Linked DNA regions of Homo sapiens. The protein of the gene in region 1 purifies or fractionates together with the protein of each later gene. This does not show direct contact. Each region holds a gene or a part of one and is shown in the gene's direction. Other genes may lie near its edges. The genes, in order: MAPK13, PLS3, NASP, NAP1L4, ARF3, EIF5B and AHCY.

What was found.
Region 2: the proteins of MAPK13 (region 1) and PLS3 purify together in Homo sapiens (co-immunoprecipitation; one large-scale study listed by IntAct). This does not show direct contact.
Region 3: the proteins of MAPK13 (region 1) and NASP purify together in Homo sapiens (co-immunoprecipitation; one large-scale study listed by IntAct). This does not show direct contact.
Region 4: the proteins of MAPK13 (region 1) and NAP1L4 purify together in Homo sapiens (co-immunoprecipitation; one large-scale study listed by IntAct). This does not show direct contact.
Region 5: the proteins of MAPK13 (region 1) and ARF3 purify together in Homo sapiens (co-immunoprecipitation; one large-scale study listed by IntAct). This does not show direct contact.
Region 6: the proteins of MAPK13 (region 1) and EIF5B purify together in Homo sapiens (co-immunoprecipitation; one large-scale study listed by IntAct). This does not show direct contact.
Region 7: the proteins of MAPK13 (region 1) and AHCY purify together in Homo sapiens (co-immunoprecipitation; one large-scale study listed by IntAct). This does not show direct contact.

The regions. Positions count from the first base shown.
Region 1 is NC_000006.12:36,133,513-36,137,012, forward strand, and holds part of MAPK13 (mitogen-activated protein kinase 13), read left to right. Parts: intron 1-2,240; coding exon 2,241-2,349; intron 2,350-2,506; coding exon 2,507-2,536; intron 2,537-2,971; coding exon 2,972-3,019; intron 3,020-3,143; coding exon 3,144-3,258; intron 3,259-3,366; coding exon 3,367-3,438; intron 3,439-3,500. UniProt on the Homo sapiens protein: Serine/threonine kinase which acts as an essential component of the MAP kinase signal transduction pathway.
Region 2 is NC_000023.11:115,637,674-115,641,173, forward strand, and holds part of PLS3 (plastin-3), read left to right. Parts: intron 1-2,436; coding exon of another isoform or gene 2,437-2,463; intron 2,464-2,734; coding exon 2,735-2,830; intron 2,831-3,500. UniProt on the Homo sapiens protein: Actin-bundling protein.
Region 3 is NC_000001.11:45,615,041-45,617,216, forward strand, and holds part of NASP (nuclear autoantigenic sperm protein), read left to right. Parts: coding exon 1-161; intron 162-264; coding exon 265-431; intron 432-1,296; coding exon 1,297-1,353; intron 1,354-1,585; coding exon 1,586-1,663; intron 1,664-2,176. UniProt on the Homo sapiens protein: Component of the histone chaperone network. Binds and stabilizes histone H3-H4 not bound to chromatin to maintain a soluble reservoir and modulate degradation by chaperone-mediated autophagy.
Region 4 is NC_000011.10:2,985,830-2,989,329, reverse strand, and holds part of NAP1L4 (nucleosome assembly protein 1-like 4), read left to right. Parts: intron 1-58; exon of another isoform or gene 59-201; intron 202-1,203; exon of another isoform or gene 1,204-1,253; intron 1,254-3,500. UniProt on the Homo sapiens protein: Acts as a histone chaperone in nucleosome assembly.
Region 5 is NC_000012.12:48,947,488-48,950,987, reverse strand, and holds part of ARF3 (ADP-ribosylation factor 3), read left to right. Parts: intron 1-3,500.
Region 6 is NC_000002.12:99,392,889-99,396,388, forward strand, and holds part of EIF5B (eukaryotic translation initiation factor 5B), read left to right. Parts: intron 1-78; coding exon 79-210; intron 211-1,378; coding exon 1,379-1,510; intron 1,511-1,620; coding exon 1,621-1,697; intron 1,698-1,830; coding exon 1,831-1,995; intron 1,996-3,500. UniProt on the Homo sapiens protein: Plays a role in translation initiation.
Region 7 is NC_000020.11:34,296,856-34,300,355, reverse strand, and holds part of AHCY (adenosylhomocysteinase), read left to right. Parts: intron 1-3,500. UniProt on the Homo sapiens protein: Catalyzes the hydrolysis of S-adenosyl-L-homocysteine to form adenosine and homocysteine. Binds copper ions.

The DNA.
Region 1 (3,500 bases):
GTGAGGTGGCAGAGGTGGAGGAATGGGCAGGTTCCTGCTTGAAATACACGGTAGAGGAAGAACAGATCTTGGGGGAAAGATAACGAACTCCATTTTGGACACTTTACTTTTAAAGAAACTGTGAACATTCCAATGTTTAATCACAGTTGCAAATAAATATGAACCTCAGGAGACGAAGGTCTGGGCTAGGGATGTGGATTTGTGCTGGAATAATCACCGATGGGTTATAGCTGACACCCGGGAACAGATAATTGTAGAATGTGGTAAGATAGTATTGATTCAGATATCAACATGAAAGAGAAGATCCAAGAGGATGAGCAGATGGAAGAAGCTGAGAGGGCCTGATAGGAGGCAGAGGAGAGTCAGCAAAGAATTGAGAGGGAGTTTCAGACTTGGTGAAAGGTTAGATCAGAAGAAAAGGGAGTCATGGTGTGTTTGTCGGGTGTTCACTGGTGACCTTGAGCTGAGCAGTCTGGCAGTAGGAGGGAAGCAGAAACCAGGTTAACTCAGGACTGGGAGGTAAGGCAGTGGGATCCAGGAGTGTGGACCGCCCTTTCTAGAAGTTTGGTGGTGAGAGAGGGAGAAGGGGTGGTCAGTTGAAGAAGCAAAGTCAAGGGAATGTGGTTCTAGCACAGAGAGGCTTCAGGAAGCATGTTGCCAAGATGAAAGAACCAGTGCCCGAGTGGAGGGGAAAGACACAGGAGGGGACTGGGCATGGAGAGGCCCCCAAGGGAGGTGTGTGGTCCGGCAGGAGAGGGCTGCCAAAATCCAGAGTCTCCTGGAGATGCCTCCAGCATGTCCTTTCAAAAACAACAACAACAACAACAACAAAAAACACAACCTATTACATAATTGTTTAAGGTAACATTCATTTTAAAAAAGTTTTAAATTTATTATATTCTAGAGATAGGGCTGGGTTGCCCAGACTGGAGTGCAGTGGCACAAACACAGTTCACTGCAGCCTCCAACTCCTAGGCTCAAGCCATCCTCCCGCCTCAGCCCCCCAAGTAGGTGGGACTACAGATGCATGCCACCATGTCCAGCTTTTTGTTTTGTTTTAATTTTTATAGATATGGGGTCTCACTATGTTACTCATCCTGATCTCGAATTCCCGGCCTCAAGTGATCCTCCCACCTCAGCCTCTTGAGTAGCTAAGACTAAAGGTGCATGCCACCACACCTGGCTAATTTTTTTTTTTTTTTCTGAAAGGTGGGGTCCAGGCCGGGCATGGTGGCTCACGCCTGTAATCCCAGCACTTTGGGAAGCCGAGGCAGGCAGATCACCTGAGGTCAGGAGTTCGAGACCAGCCTGGCCAACATGGCAAAACCCCGTCTCTACTAAGAATACAAAAATTAGCTGGGCGTTCTGGCGTGCACCTGTAGTTGTAGCTACTCAGGGAAGCTGAGGCAGGAAAATCGCTTGAACCTGGGAGGTGGAGGTTGCAGTGAGCCAAGATCACGCCACTGCACTCTAGCCTGGGCGACAGAGCAAGACTCCATCTCAAAGAAAAAAAGAAAGGAAGAAAGAAAGATGGGTCCCTATGTTGCTCAGGCTGGTCTTAAACTCTTCGCCTCAAGCGATCGTCCAGCCTCCATCTCCCAAAGCACTGGGATTGGAGGTATGCCCCTGGCCTATTTTATAATTTTTATTATTTTTTGTCTTTGTCCTGGTCTTTGCTTTTACTGTAACAGTTACATTTTGCTGGCCTTATCCTGTTGTGCAATCCCCTAAGAGGCTGCAGGAGCCTCCCCATCTCCCTCTTCCACCCTCCTGGAAACTGTTGTATTGTTTCCTTCTTGGAAAGGTAGACATATTGTTTGTTTGTGGAGCCATCTCAGCTGGGCATGACCCTCTGAGGGATCAAATATTTGGACAGAAGCCGAAGGAAATACTGGCAGATGTTTCTAACTCCTAGCTGTGGCTTTCCCTGGGGTGTGGAGGAGGGCAAGGAGAGAGTACCTTTGAAGAGCGGGAACACAGTTCCATGTGGCTTTCCTGAGCGCGCTCCAACTGCAGCGCTTACTCCGAGCTCTGCCAGCTGGGCGGCCCGCCACAGGGAGACTGGGAGCCAGGAGCCCAGAGGCCCGTGTGGTGATCTGGCTGGCTGAGGTGGAGTTGAGTTTTTGCACACTGGAGGGTGTCTCTATGACCCCTGTTCTGCCCTGAGGTCCCTCCTCTGAGCTCTGACCTGGGGCTGGGTGGGACCCGGCACTGTTCCAAGAACCCCTCATGCCTTCCAGCTACCTGGTGATGCCCTTCATGCAGACGGATCTGCAGAAGATCATGGGGATGGAGTTCAGTGAGGAGAAGATCCAGTACCTGGTGTATCAGATGCTCAAAGGCCTTAAGGTGGGTGGGGACTTGGAGGCTGGCAGAGGGGACGCCTTGCTGTCTAGACCTGAGGTTTGGGGAGGCTGGAGGGAGCGCACTGTTACAGGTCGGCCAGCCTGAAGTGCCTGGTGTGGAAGCTGGGCCATGGACTCACCCTTCTCTCTCTCCCACATAGTACATCCACTCTGCTGGGGTCGTGCACAGGGTGAGTGCTTTCTCTGCCATGGTCCTCAGAGGCCCCTGTCCCATCCCTGGGTATGGGGTTCTCTGGCAATCAAGGAGTGGGAAAGTTGGAGGGAGGGGACACTGCCCAGGAGCACAGAATGTGGAGTTTTCACACCCAGCCACGGCCCAGGAAGGCCTGCTCAAAAGAGTCACTGTGTCCCAGGGGACTTCATGGGGAATTGCTGCAGACAAAGTGAGCCCTGAGCTGAGTGTTTCAGGCTTCAAGAATCAGGAACATTTTAGAGCTGGGTGGGCCCTGAGAGAACACCTAGTCCAACCCTCATTTTACACATGAAGAAACTGAGGCCCAGAAGGGGAAGGGGCCTGGCTGAGGTCACACCCCTGGGTGGTGGTGGAGCTAGGACAAGCTCCATCTCTGCCTCAGCCTAGCATGCATTCTCTGTCCTCCCCCCAGGACCTGAAGCCAGGCAACCTGGCTGTGAATGAGGACTGTGAACTGAAGGTGAGTGGGCTGCAGGCTCAGCCCAGAGGCGGGATAGGCCCTCCCCCAGGGAAGCCCCTGGAAGCCGCTCCCAGAGCCTCCTCCCCTCAGCAAGTTCCTTTTCTATTTATCCCCTGTGCCATAGATTCTGGATTTTGGGCTGGCGCGACATGCAGACGCCGAGATGACTGGCTACGTGGTGACCCGCTGGTACCGAGCCCCCGAGGTGATCCTCAGCTGGATGCACTACAACCAGACAGGTCAGTGGTCAATGCCTGAGAGGGCGGTCCTGGGGCCATCTGGTCACTCGGTGCTGACTGACTGCTGGGCCCCAGACAGTCCAGGTGACACTCTCCCTCCCTCTGCAGTGGACATCTGGTCTGTGGGCTGTATCATGGCAGAGATGCTGACAGGGAAAACTCTGTTCAAGGGGAAAGATTGTATCCTTTGCTGGAAAAGCCAAACTCCATCTAGGGATTCCTTCCTTCAACAGACACTTTAT
Region 2 (3,500 bases), on another chromosome or scaffold:
TGGAGTTCTCCTTAACTGCCTCAATTCTGTGTGACATCCAGATGTTGGTACACAGGGAATAAACTTAAGGATCTTCATCAGATGTCACTGACCAGCAAGGCTGTGAAAACAATACTATGTGATGATATGATTTTGTTCAGTGATGAGAGGAAGCAGTGAGTTGCCTGTACTACTGATTTCATCCATGAAAATTAAGAGTAGCCCCAAAATTATAAGACCAACTGACCCTGCCCTCTCTTTTAATTACACAATATGTTTGGCCAGGTTTGTTGTTGTTGCTGTTGTTGTTGTGACAGGGTCTCACTTCGTCACCCAGGCTGGAGTGCAGTGCTGCTAACATGGCTCACTGCAGCCTTTACCTCCCAAGCTCAAGCAATCTTCCCACTTCAGCCTCCCAAGTAGCTGGGACTACAGGTGCACACCACCAAGCCCGATTGATTTTTTTTTCTTTTTCTGAGATGGAGTCTCCCTCTGTCACTCAGGCTGGAGTGCAGTGGCACTATCTCGGCTCACTGCAACCTCCGCCTCCCAGGTTCAAGAGATTCTTCTGCCTCAGCCTCCTGAGTAGCTGGAATTACAGGCATCCACCACCACGCCTGGTTAATTTTTGTATTTTTAGGAGAGACAGGGTTTCACCATCTTGGTCAGACTGGTCTCAAACTCCTGACCTCATGATCTGCCCACCTCGGCTTCCCAAAGTGCTGGGATTACAGGCATGAGCCACTGTGCCCGGCCTGATTTTTTTATTATTTGTAGAGATGGGGTCTCACTGTGTTGCCCAGGCTGGACTCAAGCTCCTGGGCTCAAGTGATCCTCCCACCTCGGCCTCCTAAAATGCTGGGATTACAGGCATGAGCCATGGTACCTGGCCAGCCAGGTATATTTTGCTTCATGCACTAGATGCGTTCCTGAAAATCAGCAAGCCAACCATAAATGGATTTTATGTAGTGGGATATATTTTAAATGTAAAGAGAAAATCTTATTTTTGTAAATGAAGCCTGCTTTGAATTTTTTTATTTTTTATTTTTTAAATTATTTTTTGTTTATTTTTTTTTTTGAGATGGAGTCTTGCTCTGTCGCCCAGGCTGGAGTGCAGTGGCGCCATCTCGGCTCACTGCAAGCTCCACCTCCCAGGTTCACGCCATTCTCCTGCCTCAGCCTCCTGAGTAGCTAGGACTACAGGCACCCGCCACCATGCCTGGCTAATTTTTTTTGTATTTTTAGTAGACATGGGGTTTCACCGTGTTAGCCAGGATGGTCTCGATCTCCTGACCTCGTGATCTGCCTACCTCGGCCTCCCAAAGTGCTGGGATTACAGGCATGAGTCACCGCCCCCGGCCATCAATATTTTTAAAAAGGAAATAATTGTTTGGTAATGTGAAAACTAACTTCCAGTTTATCTGTATTCAAGTTCAAATTTTCACCTGTAAAGCCCTTTTCAGGGTAGTAAATACAGATTTTGCTGGGTCTGCTCTTTACTTGTTCTTCTCAAGAGCATAGGTTTATTATAAATTGTTTGTGTAGCTTTAGCAAGTAATTGGAAGTGAAAGCACTTTCGCAATTGTAGTACACTATTCCTTAAGAGGTAAATGCTATGCCCCCAAATGATAGAATCGGAGTTGGCATTTTATGAATTGCTCTGAAATAGCTTTCAATTACCTGATTTTCCCCATTCTTAGAATCATTTATGGCACCAAGTTTCAAACTCACCTGGGTAACTGGTTTAAAAGGCACCTTTCTGGGCAGCTCCCAGACATTTATATTTGGTAGCTCAGGAATTGGATTCAGTAATTCACATATTGAGTAACTTCCTCAGGGGTTAGTATGCACATAGACTATGAGAAACACTCCTTCATAGCCTGTCTGGACCTTCAAAGCCCAGTAACAGGAAACTATTAATATCGTAGCTGGAAGGTGGTCTTCACATATGGCAGGATTAAGGAATCTTGACTCAAATTCCGGTCCTCTAGCATTCCAAAGATGCAGGAATTTACTTGACACGTGTGTAAAGGTTCTTAATAAGCGTTTGTGCAAGTACAATAGTTTTCAAGCTGTGTTTTGTGGAGTTGTCCACACAACCTGAATTCATGTTGACTGTGAGCCAACCCCATTGTTTTATGTATTGGGATTCTAAGAAAACAACATTCAAGTGATTTAGTCCAGGGGTTTAAAACGAAAAGAGACCTTTGTTTTGTTAAGTACATTCAGATCATAGAGGGTTCAGTGTTATTTTAGCAACTAAAATGTTTACCATTTAATGCTTTTGTCATTTAAATTTACAATTAAATACATCTTTAACATAGCTAATCTCTTCTTCGTAGGTTGTGGTATATGCATTGTGCTTTGTAATGATATAACCTGTTTATTTTCTCTTTCTTCTATGCTTCCTGGATTTCTGCTCTCCTACTTTTTTAAATGCTTGTTTTGTCTGTCAAGCTTATTGACTTCAGTAATTCAGTGAAGGTACAGAACTGGTTATATGTTTATTAGCATTATTGTATTGATGACTTTAATAATTGCGAAGTCATGTCAAAATCCAGTTCATCCATATGCAAGACAGATATAAGGCAGATAGATGGACTTTTCTGGGGAAAACACCTGTTAAATTAAAAGGCAGAGATTTGTGCCATTTATTCTCAAAAAATCCAATGCAAATAGCCTTCCAAACATGGGACAATAGGATACATTCATTCCTTGTAACTGTGATCTCACTGACATTTTCAATTCTTTGTAGGATTCCAAAGCCTATTTCCATCTTCTCAATCAAATCGCACCAAAAGGACAAAAGGAAGGTGAACCACGGATAGATATTAACATGTCAGGTTTCAATGTAAGTATAAGTGCTCTTTTGAATTCTACAATCTTGCAAAATTATTGTCAATTTCTTATAAGTACAATAATTTTTATAATCGTATGAAGTAGAGTTGGCAATTTTAAGCATTATTTTAAAATGTATTACTGTACATGTAATTCAGAGGCCAGAAAACTAGCTTTGATTTATTTTGATTGTTAGTGAATTCCATCGTTGTTGTGGTATTGATTTATATGGATGGCATAAAATATTCAAAACAAGTATGGGGAAATAAGTAACTAGAAGCTAACCTTTTCCAAGTATTTGGATTACAACCACAGTAATAGATTTAGTGACTATATGAAAACCTTTTCCAAGTATTTGGATTATAACCACAGTAATAGATTTAGTGACTATATATTCATATTCCTGTGTTGAGAGTAATGTGATTATGTTTTACAAACTCCCAATCTATGAAATCTAATTTAGGGAATTACTCTCAGAGACCATGTTCCCTGGTTATGTCACTAATTTGTTTAGTGACATTGGACAAGTTCCTTCTCAAAATTGGATTTCACTTTGTTCATCCATAAAGTAAGGAGTTAGAGTGAACTATTTAGTCCCAAGTTTCTAGGAATCTGTGGTTTTTGTACCCATTAGATATGGAATGCATGCTACTAATTAACAAAATCCACATATCTAGCCTATT
Region 3 (2,176 bases), on another chromosome or scaffold:
CCAGTCCTGCCTTAACCTGCAGGAACAGTACCTGGAAGCCCACGACCGTCTCCTTGCAGAGACCCACTACCAGCTGGGCTTGGCTTATGGGTACAACTCTCAGTATGATGAGGCAGTGGCACAGTTCAGCAAATCTATTGAAGTCATTGAGAACAGAATGGGTGAGTGAAGACGAGCTGCTTCATGGTGATGTTGGATCCAGCAATTAACAAGGAAGAAAACAGTTCTTTTTTGAGCCATTACTAATCACTTTATTCTTTTTAGCTGTACTAAACGAGCAGGTGAAGGAGGCTGAAGGATCGTCTGCTGAATACAAGAAAGAAATTGAGGAACTAAAGGAACTGCTACCCGAAATTAGAGAGAAGATAGAAGATGCAAAGGAGTCTCAGCGTAGTGGGAATGTAGCTGAACTGGCTCTGAAAGCTACTCTGGTTGGTTCCGTTAACATTTTGATAATAGCATGTTTGGTACCATTTATGTTAATGTTCTATTTGCCAGGAACTTTTCATCATGACTTGGTTTCCAGGGAGTTGGTGGGCTCATCTAATTATTCCTATCAAGTAATGCAGTGGTTAAGAGGAAATACCCTGGAGCCCCAGACTATCTGGGTTTTAATTCCATACTTACGTGTGGCCATGGGCCTTTCTCTCCCTCAGTTGACCGATTTGTAAAATGGGGATAATACAGGTTGAGTATCCTTACCTGAATGCTTGAGACCAGAAGTGTTTTGCATTTCAAATGCTTTTGGATTTTGGAATATTTGCATCATACTCAACAGTTGGATACCCTTAATCTAAAATCTGAAATGCTCCAGAGAGCATTTCCTTTGAGTGTCAGTCAGTCCTCAAAAAGTTTCAGATTGTTGGATTAAGGGATGGGATGCCCGACCTGTAGTACATATGTGTAAAATATACTTCTGACAGTACTGGAAAAATAGACATTTCTTAAAAAATGTAAGTTGCTATTTCCATCTCCAAGAACTCATTTGCATAAATTAATGAGGCATTGAGAGGCATTCACCACAAATTGCCTGGTTCTGTTTTTGGCACAGACCTTTTTACCCTGCAGGTAGGATATAGAAGATTTAGTTTATTATGTACACTCTATGTATAGACTATGCTCTGGGTGGCTGCTAGACAGGCATAGGTGGGCCAGGGGTAGAACTGGATACTATATGGAGGCCACTAGCATTTCAGGTCTTAGTCAGTTGTTTGGATGGTGATGGGTTCCTGTTACAAGGCTGTGGGCGGCCTGGGTTCTATCTTCAAACTAATTTGGATTTGTCATTTCTCGCAGGTGGAGAGTTCTACTTCAGGTTTCACTCCTGGTGGAGGAGGCTCTTCAGTCTCCATGGTGCGTATTCAGGTGGTTTTTTGGTCACTTACATTAAGTCTCAGTGTTGGCTCATGCCTGTAATCCCAGCATTTTGGGAGGCCAAGGCAGGAAGATTGCCTGAGGCTTGGAATTCAACACTAGCTTGGGCAACATAGTGAGACCTTGTCTCTGAAAAACTAAAAAATTATAAAAGCCTCAGCATTGATCTCATATAGCTTGTACAATTGCTAATAAGGGCTTATTTTGCCAGATTGCCAGTAGAAAGCCAACAGACGGTGCTTCCTCATCAAATTGTGTGACTGATATTTCCCACCTTGTCAGAAAGAAGGTAAGTCTACATGTGGTGTTTCTTTTCTACCGTTTCCTCAGACTCCATTTTTAATCCCTTTCCTATAAACCCCTCCCTATAGTTGGTGCATATAAGACACTTATTTTCCAAAGGTGGTAAGGATTTGTGAGTGGAGACTGTTGTGTTTTGTTTTGTTTTGAGACGGAGTCTTGCTCTGTCACCCAGGCTGGAGTGCAGTGGCGCAGTCTCGGCTCACTGAAACCTCTGCCCCCCGGGTTCAAGTGATTCTCCTGCCTCAGCTTCCCAAGTAGCTGGGATTACAGGCGCCCGCCACCACGCCTGGCTAGTTTTTGTATTTTTAGTAGAGACTGGGTTTTGCCATACTGACCAGGCTGGTCTTGAACTGCTGACCTCGTGATCCACCCACCTCGGCATCCCAAAGTGCTGGGATTATAAGCGTGAGCCACTGCCCTCAGCCAGGGAACTCTGAACTCCTGTTCTGTTTCCTGACTCAAACACAGGAATTCAAACTTGTACAGTGATTACCATTCA
Region 4 (3,500 bases), on another chromosome or scaffold:
TTGTTGGGAGTTTGGCCTGAGATTGCTAGCTAAGGAATGCTTGCTTTTTTGCTTAAAGGGAAAAGTGTTTTAGGCTTCCAGAGTAGAAATCTGATATTACTTCGTTTGATTCTTCGACCACTATGGTGATAGGAAGTAGCTGATCTCTGCAGGAAACTGCTGTTACCTGGCCTCAGCTGAATTTTTGTGGGACCTCCTGAGGTAAGCAAATTTATGCCTCCCGAAACTATAGTTGTAAGGTTTGTCTTTGAGCATATAGTAATGGAAAACCCTTATCAGTAGGTAGATAGTAAATAATTTTGTATTTGGCTGCTAATGAAATTTTTAAGAAATAGTTTGTGGTGATATAAATTAGTTTTCATCTGGCAGTCATTGGTTTTCCACCCTGCCCTCTTAAGAGAGAACAGGGTTGCTTTACTTTGTTTGCCAGAGCTTTACATTTTGCATTTAGTAACAGAGGCATTGTGTTTTTATAGTATGAAAACAACGAAAGATCACTTTGTGATCTTTACTTTTTGATTTTGACCACTTCCTGTGTAACCTTAAGTTTCTTACAAGTATCCCCTGTTAACTGTTAAAAACGAAATGTATGTTCATTTCATGTCCTTGGGACTTTTAAAAATGCGCTGTGCATTATCTGGAAAAGCCTGTTCAAAAACAAGATGAGATAATTTCTGTTTAATTTGTGGTAGAAAGAATGACTGTGCACTTTTATGTGCAAAGGTTTTAAGTATAATAATTAAAATAGTACTTGTTTACTCAGTTACCGAAAAGTAGCTTTCAGTGATTTGCATCTGTTTACTTATTCATGAGCATCTTCTATGTACTGGGCACAGTTCTAGGTACTGGGGCCTCCCGCAGAATAAAACAGAAGTCTTTGTCCTTGTTTCTGCTATGGGAGACAGACGAACAAGTTCAATGGTGGCAGGTGCTTTTGAAAAACAGTGCAGAGGAGTAGGGACTTTGGTGGTTGCAATATGAAATAGGTAGAGAGGGAAGTGCCTTATTGACAAGATGACAAGATCTTTTAATATGTACTGGATTAAGAAGTTAGCCTCATTGAGTCGTATGCTAATGAACTGCCCAGAAAAGAAGGGTGGAGGAGATGGGAGTGCAGCAGTAAAGACTGCTGCGCCCCAAGTAAAATGTAGTGTTTTGGTTAAGGAAAGGAAATCATTTTTTGCTTTCTTCTTGAAACCCCAGGGCTTGGCACCGCAGAAGTCTCTGAAGAGACAGTCTGCTGCTGTTTGGAGGCAGGTATTTCAGTAGATCTTGTAACCAAACATGAATGACTAAGGCAGTGTTTCTCCTCTGTGTCTTCAGAAACTGCTTGAGATGTGTGCATGCAGTCCCGGGCACCATGCGTGCTGGGTACTGGTAACACAGAGACAAGTTGTCATTTGGTAGCAGTGAGTTAAGCAAAGATTTCTTGGCAACCAGTCTCATCCCGAGTCTGTTGCTGGGCCTTGGGACTTCTGTATTGAGCAAGTAGACAGGGTCCCTGCCCTCGTGGAACTTGTTCTTTAGTGGGCAAACATGTATTATTCATTGCTTTTTTTTTTTTTTTTTTTTTGAGGTGGAGTCTCGCTCTGATGCCCAGGCTGGAGTGCAGTGGCGCGATCTCGGCTCACTGCAGCCTCTGCCTCCCAGGTTCAAGCAATTCTCCTGTCTCAGCCTCCCAAGTAGCTGGGATTACAGGTGCTCACCACCACGCCTGGGTAATTTTTGTATCTTTTTAGTAGAGACGGGTTTCACCATATTGGTCAGGCTGGTCTCGAACTCCTGACCTCAGGTGGTCTGCCCACCTGGGCCTCTCAAAGTGCTGGGATTACAGGCGTGAGCCACCGTGCCCAGCCTATTCATTGCTTTTAAACATTATCATGGGCCTGGCATGGTGGCTCACGCCTGTAATCACAGCACTTTGGGGGAAGCTGAGGTGGGCAGATCACCTGAGGGTCAGGAGTTTGAGACCCTCTCCCGCCTTGGGTGACAGAGCGAGACTCCACCTCAAAAAACAACAACAACAACAAAAAACCCAGAACATTATCATGGAAAGTTTAACAACATGATTAACTTCTGATCCTGGAGAGTGGTAATGATAGACTGGATCAGGAGTCTACTGGCCTGGGCAATAGAAATGAAATCTGGACTGTCTCAGGGCTTCGTATAATCACCAGCTTTTGTGGGTGGGGATGTTGGGGTGTCCTACAGGGGTATCTTGATTCCTTCTGAGAACAGATCATTTCTTTGTCCTTTCTGATGTCCTAATCTAAAACATCCAGTACTCCTGGAGGATTTGAACTTGTGCCCAATGGCTGGTCAGACTCTCTTGGATTGAGAATGTTGGATTGCCATTCCTCAGACTGAATGTGGGCCAAGCAATTGTGCTTTAGAAATTTATCTTAGAGTGCGGTGGCTCATACCTGTAATCCCAGCACTTTGGGAGGTTGAGGCAGGTGGATCACCTGAGGTTGGGAGTTCGAGACCAAGTCTGGCCAACATGGTGAAACCCTGTCTCTACTAAAAATACAAAAAAAAAAAAAAATTAGCTGGGCATGGTGGTGGGCACCTGTAACTCCAGCTACTTGGGAGGCTGAGGCAGGAGAAACTGGGAGGTGGAGGTTGCAGTGAGCCGAGATCGCGCCACTGCACGCCAGCCTGGGCAACAAGTGCGAAACTCTATCTCAAAAAAAAAAAAAAAAATTTACTACCATCCCTAATTTTGTAGGATATATAGGATTTGTAAGGAAATTATAAGGAGTCTTGTGAAAACATTAATTACATTTGAATTAATTTTAATCCTTCAGTTATCTCCCATAAAGACATTGAGGACCTTTGAGTTTATTAAGACAGAGTAAATATATAAAAGTTTTGGGGAGTACGACTACACTCTCTAGCTTTGTCTCTCAAACGTGGCCCAATTTTTTTTTCCTTTCTTTTTCTTTTTTTTTTTTTTGAGACAGGGTCTGGCTCTGTCGCCCAGACTGGAGTCTAGTGGGGCAATCTTGGCTCACTACAACCTCCGCCCCCCAGGTTCAAGCAGTTCTCCTGCCTCAGCCTCCTGAGTAGCTGGGACCTCAGGCGTGTGCCACCATGCCCAGCTGATTTTTGTATTTTTAATGGAGATGGAATTTCACCACGTTGGCCAGGCTGACCTCGAACTCCCGACCTCATGTGATCCGCCCGCCTTGGTCTCCCAAAGTGCTGGGATTACAGGCGTGAGCCACCGTGCCTGGCCATGGCCCAATTTTATAGTTACTCTAGCTATGGAGTAGATGTTTTCAGTTCAAAATTAGGAATTTAAGGTTATATTTTGTTACAAAAATCTTTAAAAATTTCATAAGAAAACAGTTGTTTGGGGTACAAAGAAATTAATCCATAAATAGGATTGTTACAGTGACTAATATAAATAAAAGAACATTTGTGTAATCATGGGAATTATTTTATTTTATTTTTCCTCGACCCAATTAACTGGGTGAAAATTTGCTTGCCAGTTCAGA
Region 5 (3,500 bases), on another chromosome or scaffold:
TGGTGAGACCCTGTCTCTACTAAATACAAAAAATTAGCCGGGCGTGGTGGCAGGTGCCTGTAATCGCCCAGCTACTTGAGAGGCTGAGGCAGGAGAATCGGTTGAACCCAGGAGATGGAGGTTGCAGTGAGCCGAGATTGCGCCATTGCACTCTAGCCTGGGCAACAAGAGCAAAAACTCCGTCTCAAAAAAAAAACAAAAAGGCAGACACAGAAGAACACATATTGTACAATTTTACTTCTATGAAGTACCTAGAGTAACAGATTCATAGAGACAGGAGAATGGTGGTTGCCAGGGGCTGGAGGGACAGGGGGATTGGGGATCCTCTGTTTAACAGGTACAGTTTCAGTTTGGGAAGATTAAAAAGTTGAGGTGATGAATAGTTGTGATAGTTACACTACAGTGTGAATGTACTTAACGCTACTGAATTGTATACTTAAAAAAATGGTTAGAATGGTAAATTTTGTGTATATTTTACTATGATTTAAAAAAAAAGAAGCCAGTCGGGTACAGTGGCTCATGCCTGTAATCCCAGAACTTTGGGAAGCCGAGGTGGGCGGATCACTTGAGCCCAGGAGTTTGAGACTAGCCTGGGCAACATGGCGAAACTTCAGTTAAACAAAAATTAGCCAGGCGTGGTGGTGCATGCCTGTAGTCCCAGCTACTCCAGAGGCTGAAGTGGGAGGATTGCTCGAGCCTGGGAGGTGGAGGCTGCAGTGAGCCACTATCACGCCACTGCACTCCAGCTTGGGTGACAGAGCAAGACCCATCTCAGAAAACGAAAGATGCCAGGCGTGGTGGTGCATGCCTATAGTCCCAGTTACTCAGGATTGCGTGAGCCCAAGAATTTGAGGCTGTAGCGCACCATGAGGGCACCTGTGAATAGCCATTGTATTTCATCGTGGGCAACATAGTGGGACCCCATCTCTAAAAAAGAAAAAGTTTAGTTTACCAGCTTGATACTGTAATTAAGGACCCAACTGAGTTTTTCCCATTTTTCTGCTCTGACATCCTGGAGTTTTTAATGTCTGTCTCCCTCTCTTTATGGTCTCCAGATTATTCTAGCTTCTCATCCTTCTACATCATCAACATCCAAAGGCTGGACAAGAGAACATTGCCATAGGTCCTTTTCTAAGATTGAGGGGCCAGGCACAATGGCTCATGCCTGTCATCTCAGTACTTTGGGAGGCTGAGGTGGGAGGACTGCTTGAGGTCAGGAGTTCGAGACCAGCCTGGGTAACATAGCAAGACCTTGTCTCTACAAAAAAACTTTAAAAATTAGCCAGGCATGGTGATGCACACCTGTAGTTCTAGCTACTTGGGAGGTTGAGGTGGGAGGATCTCTTGAGCCCAGGAGATGGAGGCTGCAGTGAGCCATGATCATGCCACTGCACTCTAGTCTGAGTGGTAGAGTGAGACTCTGTTTCTAAAAACAACAGTAATAATAAAAACAAACATGTTCAGGCCAGGTGCAGTGGCTCATGCCTGTAATCCCAGCACTTTGGGAGGCCGAGGTGGGTGGATCATGAGGTCAAGAGATCGAGACCATTCTGGCCAACATGGTGAAACCCCGTCTCTACTAAAAATACAAAAAATTAGCTGGGTGTAGTGGCGGGCGCCTGTAGTCCCAGCTACTCGGGAGGCTGAGGCAGGAGAATGGTGTGAACCCGGGAGGCAGAGCTTGCAGTGAGCCGAGATCGCGCCACTGCACTGCAACCCGGGCGACAGAGCGAGACTCTGTCTCAGACAACAACAACAACAAACAAACAAACATACATATTCACCTTCAGATCTGTTCCTCTTGTATTTTCTTTCTGAAGAAATGCCACCCAGCCCTAGGCCAGAAACCTGGGAATCATCTTTGATTATTCTACTCTTCTGCGTACATTTAAGCACTCATTAAATCCTGTGGATTCTACCATTTTGATGTTTCAAATCTGTCCTCTTCTCTCTATCTCCACTTGTAGTTGACAACTTGCGATTTCTCACCTGTATTACTATACCTCCTAAGCAGTGTCTGTGCCTCCAGTCTTTCCCCTTTCTAATTTACTCCTGAAACTTCTAAAGCACATACCTGATCACGTTACTCAGCATGGCCTTTAAAGCCCTTCATGATCCAGTCCCTGCTTATCTCTCCAGCCCCATCCCTCATCATTTTCTTTCTTTCTTTTTTTTTTGAGACCGAGTCTCACTCTGTCACCTAAGCTGGAGTGCAGTGATGTGATCTTGGCTCACTGCAACCCCTGCTTCCTGGGTTCAAGCAATTCTCCTGCCTCAGCACCCTGAGTAGCTGGGATTGCAGGCCCACACCATCACACCCGGCTAATTTTTCTATTTTTAGTAGAGACGGGGTTTTACCATGTTGGCCAGGCTGATCTTGATCTTCTGACCTTGTGATCCGCCCACCTCGGCCTCCCAAAGTGCTGGGATTACAGGCGTGAGCTACCACACCTTGCCTGTACTCTTCACTTTAGGAGGCTGAGACTGGAGGATCGTTTGAAGTCAGAAGTTCGAGACCAACCTGGTCAACAAAGTGAGACTCTATCTCTACCAAAAATAAAAATAAAAAAGTTAGCTGCGTCACGATGATTTGGGCCCGTAGGTCTTTTTAGCTACTGGGGAAGCTGAGGCAGTAGGATTGTTTGAGCCCAGGATTTGGATGCTGCAGTGAGCCTGGGTGACAGAGTGAGACCTCATCTCTTTAAAAAAAAAAAAAAGATTATATAAATTTTTTTAAAGTGCTATCTGAAACTTAGGTCTTTTTTTCTTTTTCTTTTTTTTGAGACATATTCTCTCACTCTGTCACCTGGGCTGGAGTGCAGTGGCGTGATCATGGCTCACTGCAGCCACAACTTCCTGGGCTCAGGTGATTCTCTTGTCTCAGCCTCCTGAGTAGTTGGGACTACAGGCGTGCACCACCACACCCAGCTTTTTTTTTTTTTTTTGTAGCGATGGGCTTTTGCCATGTTGCCCAGGCTGGCCTTGAACTCCTGGCCTCAGGCAATCTTCTTGCATCAGCCTCCCAAAGTGCTGGGATTACAGGTGTGTCCTGCTGTGCCTGGCTCAGTCTTTATGCCTTTGCACACACTTCCCCTGCCCAACTCCCTCTTTATTGTCTGATTACTTCCTCGTCTTCCTTTAGGAGCCAGCTCAGGTATGACCTGAGAATTAGGTTTCAGAATCACCCTTTACCCTTCAGTGTTGATTTACTGCTCCAGCTTTCTGTTCACATAATACTATGTGCTTTACTCTTACTCTCACACTGTTTTGTAGTCCTGTCTTCACTAGTCTTTTCCATTAAAGACTGAGTTTCATGAAGGCAGAAACTGTCTCCCTCTCTGTATCCCTAGTTCAGTATGCCCAATAAATGTTTGATGAATGAGGCCAGGCACGGTGGCCCACGCCTGTAATCCCAGCACTTTGGGGGGCAGAGGTGGGCAGATCACAAGGTCAGGAGATCAAGACCATCCTGGTTAACATGGTGAAATCCTGTCTCTACT
Region 6 (3,500 bases), on another chromosome or scaffold:
ATGAGATTCTCTTATATCATCTTCTACTGCTAACCACTTTTAAAGTACATTTGGTAACAAATGTTTTTATCTCTGTAGAACCAGTATGAAAAGCATAAAGAAGTAGAAGCAGCTCAGGGGGTAAAGATTCTTGGAAAAGACCTGGAGAAAACATTGGCTGGTTTACCCCTCCTTGTGGCTTATAAAGAAGATGAAATCCCTGTTCTTAAAGTAAGTTCATTTAAAAATTTTTTTCCTTAAAAGCTATTTGAGTTCTGGCATGTGTCAGCATTGCACATGCTAGGGATGGTGACCAAAACTGGCTTTGTCTTTGTGAAGCCTGCCATTTCTTGGCCTCTTAGCAAACTTGATGCTTTTGAATTACTTCAGTTTGTACAATCATAGAAATTGGTATAATTTTTATATGTACTAGAATTATAAAAATAATGCATTTTATTCAAATAAAAAAATGAGTCAAAAGCTAGAAGTCGGCTGGGCATGGTGAATGCACACCTGTAGTCCCAGCTACTTGGGAGGCTGAGGCAGGAGAATCACTTGAACCTGGGAGGCAGAGGCTGCAGTGAGCCAAGATCGTGCCACTGCACTCCAACCTGGGTGACAGCAGGACCCTGTCTAAAAAAAAAAAAGCTAGAAATTGTATATTCTTTTTGGCCCATGTCCATTGTAGTTTCATAAAAGTGGACTTTGAGCCATAGTTTGTTCATTTGCCAAAGAGAAAATACAACTGTTCCCAGCACATGGCTCTTGTGTCCTGGGGCCGTGTTTATTATTTAGGCAGCATCAAGTCATGCTGTTGGGAATAAGCTATCTTAGGGCCAGTGAGAGAATAGGGCAGGCCTGTCTCTTCACCCAGTCCTGAGTATGGAGTGGACTTACGTCCCTTCAGTGGCATTGATAAACTTGTTTTACTTATTTCTGGTTAAAAATCTCTTCTTCCATTTCCCGACAAGCAGTGATGGAGGAAGGAGCTGCTGAGATCATGAGATTATGGTATTTCCTAGTTAACACAGACAAGCTGAACTTTTGGGCTATCATAACACATTACGTTTATGTGGTACTTTTTTAACTTTAAAAAAATTTTTCTTCTCTACTGTTTAATTCTGCCCACCCATCTACTGTATTTGCCAAGTGGAGCGGAGATTAAACATATTTCAAAGTTAGTAAACCTAAGACAAAGGTGAAGCGAAATACAGTTAGGGTATGGCCCCGAAATCTCCTCCTTCATTCCAGCACAGGTTCTGTGATGCCTTGCTCTATCTAAGCCTTAGTTTCATATTTGCAGATGAGTACTTAACCAAAGAGAGAAACACAATTTAATTCTAGACTGCTGAGGATAGAGGTGTGTTGACAACCTTATCAAATCTGATTTCTTTTCAAGGATGAATTGATCCATGAGTTAAAGCAGACACTAAATGCTATCAAATTAGAAGAAAAAGGAGTCTATGTCCAGGCATCTACACTGGGTTCTTTGGAAGCTCTACTGGAATTTCTGAAAACATCAGAAGTGCCCGTAAGTAACTACAACTCGCTCCACAAGTGAATGGTGGTTGGTCGTGGTTTTTGGTGCCATCGCCATTACCTGATACATACAGATAAACATGGAAACTCCCATTTTTTCAGTATGCAGGAATTAACATTGGCCCAGTGCATAAAAAAGATGTTATGAAGGCTTCAGTGATGTTGGAACATGACCCTCAGTAAGTAATTTCTCTTGCTATGAAGGCTTTCATGTTACGTAGCTATCTTAAAACTGTCCTATCTTAAAAAACTGTCCTCTGTGACATACTCTGTTTTTCACTGAATGGTCTTTGATGTGTTTTAACCTTTTAGGTATGCAGTAATTTTGGCCTTCGATGTGAGAATTGAACGAGATGCACAAGAAATGGCTGATAGTTTAGGAGTTAGAATTTTTAGTGCAGAAATTATTTATCATTTATTTGATGCCTTTACAAAATATAGACAAGACTACAAGAAACAGAAACAAGAAGAATTTAAGTAAGTTACTGTTTTTATTTACTTTGAGTCTTTGTTAATGAACATGATTGAGAATTACTGAATTCCAGAAAGGGCTGTAAACAGCAAAATCATGGCATTTACTCATCTACCAGAGGCTGCATCCTGAAATGGTGTGTTACAAACCAGAAACCCAACATACTGGGGACATTCCAGCAGTATGCAAACAAGTCTTGTCTGTGACTTCAGTTTAATAATCTTGGCAGACTTGGGTCTTGTTAATGGGTTCGTAGTTATTAAATGTAGGGACTTTATGTTGCTCATCTGGGATTATATAGATTGGAAGTAACAAAACTTGAGTGAGGAAAACCGGGAAATAAGAGATTCTGTGGGAGAGAAGTCCATTCCTCTACCAAACTTTCACTCAAGCACTCACAGTACCTACATTGCTGCAGTGGTAGAGGAGGCATCAGCAGAGAACCAGGCCAGCCTCCCTCCTCCTTTCCCTTTGAGACAGGGTCTCGTTCTGTCACCCATGCTGCAGTACAGTGGCATGATCATGGGTCACCCCAACCTCTGCCTACTGGGCTCAAGTGATCCTCCCACCTTGGCCTCCCGAGTAGTTGAGACTACAGGCTCACACCACTATGCCTGGCTAATTTTTTGTATTTTTGGTAGAGATAGGGTTTCGCCATGTTGGCCAGGCTGGTCTTGAACTCCTGAGCTCAAGTGATCCACCTGCCTCTGCCTCCCAAAGTGCTGGGATTATAGGTGTAAGCCACTGTGCCTGGTCTGGGACATGCTCTTATTGCAGGACAATTGACACATGTTGAGAAGTGCTGAAAAACCAAATAAAGCAGGGAAGGGCCTAGATAAGGAGAGGAGGGACTGTGATTAATGATGTGGTTTGGGAAGGCATCTCACCTCTTCAGACAGAGTAAGCCACACAGGCACATGGGGAGTGTCCAGAGAGAACAGCAGTGCGAGGCAGAGTGACCAGAAGGGACAGTGATAAATGAGGTCAGAGAGGGTGGCAGGACCTGTATCGTCAAGGATCTTACAGGCCATGGGAGGGATTGAGCTTCTCTGAGTTTTGCAAGAAGCCATTGCCAAGGCTGTGTGTTCACAATCAGACTGGTTAATTGGGTTGTTATGTGGACCTTGGGTTGTTAGGAAGTCAGTGGCAAGAGCCTGTCAGGAGGCTCCCACAGTCCAAGCAAGAGGTCTAGGTGATTCAGACCACAGTGATGATAGGAGTGATGGCGTAGTTTGGGATACATTTTTAAGTGGAGCTTACTAGTAAATATTAGGATTTAGACTGGTATATGCTCACTTTAGATCATGAAACCTGAAGTGAGAAGAATTCTACTTAACAAGACTGCTGGAAACTTTTAAAGCATTTTAAGCGTGTGCTCAATAAGCAGGGTAGTTATGTAGTGGCCTTTTGGATCAATGGTTTGGGAACGTGGTGGAGAAAAGGAGGGTGATAATACGGTCTGATGCCTATGTGATCCCCCAGTAGCCTACATATGTGCCTAACGAAGACC
Region 7 (3,500 bases), on another chromosome or scaffold:
GTTTTGTTTACTTTAGTAGAATGATGGAGGTGATGTAACTTAAATTTTTAAGAGCCTCCCTCTTCTGGCTGCTGTGGGGAGAATGGCATGTTAGAGCATGGGACCAGTGAAGAGAGTGTGGCAGTGTCCAACTGAGAAGTGGCAGTGTATTTATTTCTTTATTGTTTTTTTTGGAGACAGAGTCTCCCTCTCACCCAGGTTGGAGTGCAGTGGTGCTATTTTAGCTCACTGCCACCTCCGCCTCCCAGGTTCAAGCAATTCTCCTGCCTCAGCCTCCTGAGTAGGTGGGATTATAAGTGCCCACCACCACGCCCAACTAATTTTTGTATTTTTAGTAGAGATGGGATTTCACCATGTTGGCCAGGCTGCTCTCGAACTTCTGACCTCGGGTGATCCGCCCACCTTGGCCTCCCAAAGTGCTGGGATTACAGGCTGTGAGCCACCGCGCCCAGCCTGAGAAGTGACAGTTTAGATGAAGGTGGTGAGATGCAGTTGGATTGCTTATATATTTCACTTGTTGAGCCAAAAACGTGCTGATTGAGGTGAAAGAGGAAAAGAGGAATCAAATCTTAAGTTTTTGGGCAGAGTAGCTGGTTGAATGGTGGTTTCATTTCCTAAAATGGGAAGATTGGGAGAGTAACCGGTAGTGGGGGCAAAGGAGCCATGAGGACTCCAACATGACACATAATAGATCCAACTGGACATCCAAGTGGAGGTGCTGTGGAGGCAGTTGGATCACATCGAGTCTCAAGTTCAGGGGAGTAGTTTGGGCTGGATATAAATACGTGGGAGTCATCCCCGTAGAGAAGGTATGTAAAGCCATAAGACTGGATGAGCTTAATTGGTAAACATAAGAGAACTGGGAGATGATGGAGCCCTGAGGGCCCCCAAACCCTAAAGTCTGTTAGCTAAAGAGGAACCAGGAAGGTAGGTGGAAAAGCACAGGACAGTCACAGAAGCCAAGTAAAGAAAGGGTTTCAGGAAGGAGGGCAAGTCATTCATGCAATCTGTGCTGCTGGTAGAAACATGGTCTTAGGTAATTTTGCATCAGGTATGGAGATCAGGCTGGTCTTTGGACGGAAGAGCAGTTTTAGTGGAGTATGGAAGTCCTTAAGGAGGAGAGGGGATATGGAATCAGGCCCCATGGAGCAGGGATAGTGTAGTGACCAGCCCCATAGGGTCGGTGGGTCTCTCCCTGTGTGCGGCGACGAGAGAGTGTAGAAATAAAGATACAAGACAAAGAGACAAGAGAAAAGGCAGCTGGGCCCGGGGGACCACTACCATCAATGCGCGGAGACCGGTAGTGGCCCCGAATGTTGGGCTGCGCTGTTATTTATTGCATATAAGGCAGAAGGGGCAGGGTAAAGAATGTGAGTCACCTCCAAGGATAGGTAAGGTCATGTGGGTCACGTGTCCACTGGACAGGGGGCCCTTCCCTGCCTGGCAGCCGAGGCAGGGAGGGAGAGGAGACAGAGAGAAAGACAGCTTACGCAATTATTTCTGCATATCAGGGACTATTAGTATTTTTACTAATTTACTACTGCTATCTAGAAGGCATAGCCAGGTGTACAGGATGGAACATGAAGGCAGACTAGGAGTGTGACCACTGAAGCACAGCATCACAGGGAGATGGTTAGGCCTCTGGATAACTGTGGGCGAGCCTGGCTGATGTCAGGCCCTCTACAAGAGGTGGAGGAGCAGAGTCTTTTCTAAACTCCCCTGGGGAAAGGGAGACACCCCCCCCCCTCCCGCCGCCGCCACTTCCCAGTCTGCTAAGTAGCGGGTGTTGTTCCTTGACACCTTTTGCTACCGCTGGACCACGATCCGCCTGGTAACGGGCGTCTTCCCAGACGCTGGCGTCACCGCTAGACCAAGGAGCCCTCTGGTGGCCCTGTCCGGGCATAACAGAAGGCTCGCACTCTTGTCTTCTGGTCACACCTCACTATGTCCCCTCAGCTCCTATCTCTGTATGGCCTGGTTTTTCCTAGGCTATGATTATAGAGCAAGGATTATCATAATATTGGAATAAAAAGTAATTGCTACAAACTAATGATTAATGATATTCATATATAATCATATATAAGATCTATATCTAGTATAACTATTCTTGTTTTATATTTTATTATACTGGAACAGCTCGTGTCCTCTGTCTCTTGCCTCGGTGCCTGGGTGGCTTGCCGCCCACAGGACAGCTCATCTATTTTATTTTATTTTTTTGAGACCGAGTCTCACTCTGTCACCCAGGCTGGAGTGCAGTGGCATGATCTCAGCTCATTGCAGCCTCTGCCTCCCAGGTTCAAGTGATTCTCCTGCCTCAGCCTCCTGAGTAGCTGGGATTACAGGCACCCACCACCACACCCGGCTAATTTTTGTATTTTTAGTAGAGACGGGGTTTCACCATGTTGGTCAGGCTGGTCTTGAACTCCTGACCTCAAGTGATCTGCCCACCTTGGCCTCCCAAAGTGTTGGGATTACAGGTGTGAGCCACCGCGCCCATTCAACTCATCTGTGGTAACAGGAAAGAGTGCCTGGTCTGAAGCTGTAGATGACTGCTATAGGTGACTAGTGGATTCCATAGGGGAAAAGTGGCCTGGTTCTGAATTCATCTCAGTGAATTGGGAAGTGAGATTGTCATTCAATGGGGAAAGGTGTTGGAGGGTTGAGGAGAGTAGAAAATGGGAGTAAATTTACTAGGAAAATGTCATAGGATTGCTGCAATGTGCTATGTGTCTTTTATGGTCTTAATAAATATGATATCTTGGCCAGGTGTGGTGGCTCACACCTGTAATCCCAGCACTTTGGGAGGCTGAAGCAGGTGGATCACGAGGCCAGGAGTTCAAGATCAGCCTGGCCAACATGGTGAAACCCCGTCTCCTCTAAAAATACAAAAATTAGCTGGGCATGGTGGCGAGTTCCTGTAATCCCAGCTATTGGGGAGGCTGAGGCAGGAGAATTGCTTGAACCGGGACCTGAGAGGTGGAGGTTGCAGTGGGCCGAGATCGCGCCACTGCACCCCAGCCTGGTCTACAGAGCCAGACTATGTCTCTAAAATAATTAATTAATTAATTAATTAAATATGATGTCTTGGTGGGGTTGTGATTGTCCTCCTGCTGGGTTCAGTGGGTCCGGTGCAGTGGAGGGTCGGGTTTAATTGGGCTGAGAGTTTTGCCAAGTGAGTTCTCAAAGGGAAAGGGGGTAGAAGGGACACTAGAAATTGGTAGGATGAATTGAATAGAGGTTCTCACCTGACAGGCCACAGCCTTGTTGGAGCTTGGCCTCTGGAAGGAGAAAACCAGAAAGATGAGGCGTGGCTAGAGTTGGGTGCTTGAAGTCCAGATTTCCAAGGAGAGCTATCACTGGTGATGGCCTACTAGGGTAGGAGGGCTGGGGTGGGTGGCTTGAGTTGAGGCACAGCCGGAGTGGTCTCTCATGCGGGAGGCGTGTTTCATCTCTGAAATTGTTAAAATGCACTGTAGGAAGCTGACTGACAGACAATTTTA